Regions from separate parts of the Homo sapiens genome. Here region 2 is linked to region 1. Evidence: fine-mapped expression QTL. Tissue or cell type: whole blood. Region 1 holds a variant in brackets; the other region holds the start of a gene. All regions are shown on one strand. Distances are from middle to middle.

The links.
Region 2: it holds the start of USP15, and the variant in region 1 is fine-mapped to the expression of USP15 in whole blood (TOPMed, PIP above 0.99).

Annotation. Positions count from the first base shown.
Region 1 is chr12:62,201,349-62,204,368 of GRCh38, forward strand. It overlaps a transcript of TAFA2 not described here. Among named protein-coding and RNA genes, the nearest start is that of TAFA2, 10 kb to the left of the region's middle. The variant C/T (reference allele first, on the strand shown) is at 1,204.
Region 2 is chr12:62,259,147-62,261,646 of GRCh38, forward strand. USP15 (ubiquitin specific peptidase 15) reads left to right here and starts at 1,258. Exons shown (of 22, transcript NM_001252078.2): 1 at 1,258-1,357. The coding sequence starts at 1,269. It overlaps MIR6125 (microRNA 6125), which reads left to right and starts at 1,213; the gene lies at 1,213-1,308. It also overlaps a transcript of TAFA2 not described here. RefSeq lists enhancers at 514-583, 1,134-1,493, 1,714-1,763, 2,487-2,500 and silencers at 844-903, 984-1,093.

The DNA of each region.
Region 1 (3,020 bases):
TTCAGTATGACATTGGCTGTCAGTTTGTCATAAAAGGTTCTTTTTATTTTGAGGTATGTTCCATCAATACCTAGTATATTGAGAGTTTTTAACATGAAGAGATGTTGAATTTCAGCAAAAGCCTTTTCCTATGTCTATTGAGATAATTATGTGGTTACTGTCTTTAATTCTGTTTATGTGATGAATTATGTTTATTGATTTGCATATGTTGAACCAGCCTTGCATCCCAGGGATGAAGACAACTTGATCATGGTGGATAAGCTTTTTGATGTGCTGCTGCATTTGATTTGCCAGTTGAGGATTTTTGCATTGATGTTCATCAGGGACATTGGCCTGAACTTTGTTGTTGTTGTTGCTGTTGCTGTATTGCTGCAAGGTTCTGGTATCAGGATGATGCTGGCCTCAAAAGATGAGTTGGGAGGGGTCTCTCCTTTTCAATTGTCTGGAATAGTTTCAGAAGAAATGGTACCAGTGCCTCTTCGTACCTCTGGTAGAATTCAGCTGCAAATCTGTCTGGTCCTAGGCTTTTTTTGGTTGGTAGGCTATTTATTATTGCCTCAATTTCATAACCTTTTATTGGTCTATTTAGGGATTCAAATTCTTTCAGATTCAGTCTTCAGAGGTTGTATGTGTCCAGGAATTTATTTATTTCTTCCAGATTTTCTAGTTTATTTGCATAGATGTGTTTATAGTATTCTCTGACGGCTGTTTGTATTTCTGTGGGGTCAATGATGATATCCCCTTTATGATTTTTTATTGTGTCTATTTTATTCTTCTCTCTTTTCTCCTTTATGAGTTTAGCTAACAGTCTATTTTATTAATTTTTTTCAAAAAACAAGCTCCTGGATTAGCTGATTTTTTAAGGGTTTTTCATATCCCTATCTACTTCATTTCTACTGTGATCTTGGTTATTTCTTGTCTTCTGCTAGCTTTGGGGTTTGTTTGCCCTTGGTTTTCTAGTTCTATTAATTGTGATGTTAGATTTGAGATCTTTCTAGTTTTTTTTTTTTCTTTTTGAGACAGAGTCTCGCTCTGTGGCCCAGGCTGGAGTGCAATGATACGATCTTGGCTCACTGCAACTTCTGCCTCCCAGTTCAAGTGATTCTCTCGCCTCAGCCTCCCTAGTAGCTGGGCACCCACCACCATGCCCAGCTAATTTTTGTATTTTTAGTAGAGGTGGACAGACTGGTCTCAAACTCCTGA[C/T]CTCAGATGATCCACCTGCTTTGGCCTCCCAAAGTGCTGGGATTACAGGCGTGAGCCACTGTGCCCGGTCCTTTCTAGCTTTTTGATGTGGCATTTAGTGTTATAAATTTCCCTCTTAATACTGCTTTAACTGCATCCCAGAGATCCTGGTACTTTGTCTCTTTGTTCTGATTGGTTTCTAAGAACTTCTTGATTTCTGCCTTAATTTCATTATTTACCCAGGAGTCATTCACGAGCAAGTTGTTCAATTTACATGTAGCTGTGTGGTTCTTTTTTTTTTTTTTTTTTTTTTTTTTTAGACAGTCTTGCTCTGTCACCCAGGCTAGAGTGCAGTGGTGCAATCGCAGCTCACTGCAACCTCCACCCCCTGGCTCAAGTAATTCTCATACCTCAGCCTCCTTTGTAGCTGGGACTAAAGGCACATGCCAACATGCCCAGCTAATTTTTGTATTTCTAGTAGAGACACGGTTTCATCATGTTGACCAGGCTCGTCTTGAACTCCTGACCTCAAGTGATTCACCCACCTCAGCCTCCCAAAGTGCTGAGATTACAGGCATGAGCCACCACACCCATCTTACATGTAGTTATGTGGTTCTGAGGGGGTTTCTTAAGTCTTGAGCTCTAATTTGATTGTGCTGTGGTCTGAGAGACTGTTTGTTATGATTTTGGTTCTTTTGCATTTGCTGAGGAGTGTTTTACTTCCAATTATGTGATTAAGTTTAGAGTAAGCGCCATGTGGCGCCAAGAATAACGTATATTCTGTTGTTTTTGGGTGGAGAGTTCTGTAGATATTTATCAGGTCCACTTGATCCAGAGCTGAGTTCAAGTCCTGAATATCCTTGTTAATTTTCTGTCTCGATCATCTGTCTAATATTGACAGTGGGGTGTTAAAGTCTCCCACTATTATTGTGTGGGCATCTAAGTCTCTATGTAGGTCTCTAAGAATTTGTTTTATGAATCTGGGTCCTCCTGTATTGGGTGCCTATATATTTAGGACAGTTAGCTCTTCTTGTTGAATTTAACTCTTTACCATTATGTAATGCCCTTGTCTTTTTTTAATCTTCATTGGTTTAAAGTCTGTTTTGTCAGAAACTAGGATTGCAACCCCTGCTTTTTTTGGCTTTCCATTTGCTTGGGAAATTCTCCTCCATCCCTTTATTTTGAGCCTATGTGTGTCTTCGCCCATGAGCTCAGTCTCTTGAATACAACATACCAATGGGTCTTGACTCTTTACCCAGCTTGCCATTCTGTGTTTTTTAATTGGGGCATTTAGCCCATTTACGTTTAAGGTTAATGCTGTTTTATGTGAATTTGATACTGTCATCATGATGCTAGCTGGCTATTTTGCAGACTTGTTGATGTAGTTGCCTCATAGTGTCTTTGGTCTTTGTACTTCAGTGTGGTTTTGTAGTGGCTGGTAATGGTTTTTCTTTTCCACATTTAGTGCTTCCTTCAGGAGCTCTTGCAAGGCAGGCCTGGTGGTGGCAAATTCCCTCAGCATTTGCTTGCCTGGAAAGGATCTTATTTCTCCTTTGCTCATGAAGCTTAGTTTGGCCAGATATGAAATTCTGGGTTGGAAATTCTTTTTTTTTTAAGAATGTTGAATATTGGCCCCCAATCTCTTCTGGCTTGTTGGGTTTCTCAGGAGAAGTCCACAGTGAGTCTGACGAACTTGCCTTTGTAGGTGACCTGGCCTTTCTCTCTGGCTGCCCTTAACATTTTTTCCTTCATTTCGACCTTGGAGAATCTGATGATTATGTGTCTTGGGGTTGATCTCCTCATGGAGTATCTTACTGGTGTTCTCTGGATTTCGTGAA
Region 2 (2,500 bases), 58 kb after region 1:
AAAATGGGCAAACGAGAAATGATGTGGGGATTCCGGCCCATCTTTTAGACTTTTCACATCAATATGGTATGTTAAAATCACACCCCTGGACATCATGCTCGGGAATACTTAAGTAATTTTGCCACAATTCATTTACTAAACAAATATTTAGGTAATTTTTACATGTCCATCAGTACTGTGCTAACCACCAGGTGTACAAAGGCTAAAACAAAAGATGAACCCAGTTCCAGCTCTTAAAGAGTTTACATTTTAGTTCAGGCTTTCAGAAGGAGAGGCAGTGAGTGTGCTATACTGTATAGCATGTGGGCTCTTGAACCAGCCTCTCCACTCACCTCTCCACCTGCTGTGTGACCTTGGCATTTGATTTTTAAGCGACTCGATTTTCTATTTTGTAACATAATCGTTGACTTCAAATTAAAGACATATCTAGTTTCATTTCAGGTGTACGGCACCATACGAAGATGGGGCTAAGAAAATGTTACTATCCTGTATAAACAAGAGGGTTTCTCGCACGTTTTCTTCCTTTAGTATCTGGCATTATTCAATACTGTCCATATTCTACTCCCTGTTCACCGATGAACTGGGACATGTTTTTCACTGCAGCTTAGTCGTCTGGGTGTGCCTGGGGAGGCGTCACAAAGAGCCTATAAAGGGTCCCCACCTACAACGGGAGTAAGAGCGCTGGAAGGAACCCAGGAAGGGCATGGAGACCAAGCGTTCGGTTTCGGAGTGTTTTTTGTGTGTGCCCATATTCACCGAGCTTGGGTTCTCCCACTCGTAACGAAAAGCCCAGTCACTGAGCTGCTACATTTTCTGCCATATCTTAGCCGTCCCCACGCCCCCACACCACCGCCCCACCCTACCTCACCCTCAAGCGTGAGTGAATGCGCAAATAAGGGTTTTCAAGGCGTCAGTGGGAAAGAGGGAGGGGAAGGCAACGCTGAGGACGGGAGGACAGGGCGGTGGCATCCCTCTAGCGAGAGAGAGCCAGAGCCCTCGGCGGCGAGGAAAGCTAAAACCCGGCAGTCCCGGGCCAGAGGAGGCCAAGGCAAGATGCTGGACGGGCGGGGACCGATGGGGGGCAGCAGACCATGGCCGCGCACCCAGTGCGCCCCCGGGGCCTCCTCTTGTCCCGAGGAGCACCCCCGCTCCCGGTGTCTTTTGGTTTCGACCGGCCGACTGGGAGGGGCCGTGGGACGCCATTCCCATAATGCTCTGGGGCGTGCCGCCGCCGTCGCTGCCACCTCCCCTACCGCTAGTGGAAGAAGATGGCGGAAGGCGGAGCGGCGGATCTGGACACCCAGCGGTCTGACATCGCGACGCTGCTCAAAACCTCGCTCCGGAAAGGGGACACCTGGTAAGAGAAAGGGGTTGAGATGCCCGCGGTTGCCCGAGGATAGTGGAGAAGTGGGCGGGAGCCGCGAGCTGGTTCTTTCGCTAGTGACAGGTGCGGGCAGGTCCGGCGGCGGCCGCCGGGGCAGCGGGATTTTGGCCGCTTCTGAAATGTTGGGGCAAAGGTTGGACTCTAGATGAGGGTCAGGGTTCTTGGCTTGCCAGGGCATGCTGAAAGGTATCCGGGGAGCGGCGGCGGCGGCGGTTCTGACTCGTGCGGTTCTCTTCGTCCTCCTTCCTTCCGTAGTGCCGCTCCCACCTCAGGCCTTCCCGAATGATAGGTTATAGTGGTTTGGTTTGAGTCTTATATACGCCGTTTTGACAGGTCCCGGTGCCGCGGCTTATCACGATCTCACCGGCTTTACTTCTCTGTTCATTTCCTTTCCTAGAATTGTCGGCGTCCAAGTTCCCTTTTATTCTGATTCTTGGTCTTCCGGGAGGCAGGCTGCAGGATGTTTGCGGTCTGTACTACACAGGTGGCATGTCAGGGCTCCACATAAGAGAAAGAAACCCTAGTTTCCAGTTCCTTGTCAAAGGAGGGAGAGGAGTAGGGAACCTTGGGCTTATGAGAGACCACGTGGTCTTGTGCTTTAGTGGTGGCTTGATAGAAGCCGGCAGCGTTTCTGTTAGACGTGCAGCCCTTCCCTTCTGTTTGAAAGATAATGTAGGCCTGCAAAAAGTAGATAAGTCCACTTGAGGCTTAACTAACTGCTAATATTCAAACTTGTAAAATACCAAAGGTTATACATTTAAAATACTGAAGGATGTATGTGGACATTTTCACACTTGTCGACCATATCAAGTGGCATCTACAATAACTTAAATATGTGAATATGTAACATAATTTAAAATTCCTTATTTTTTGGGAAGCATAATGTGCCTCTTCATTATAATAAAACATATTTTCACTTTCCACTGTTACCATAACAGTAGTATATAATTCATAGAGTGTTTCAGTATGGCATAGTGAAAGGAACAGTAAGATTTAGACCTGAGTTATGTCACAGTTTCACCACTCAACTTGCAGTATGGCTTTGAGGAGAGTTAATTTAAATCATTGCACCTCATTATCTTCATGCTGTAAAATGGACAGTAATTTTATTATAAG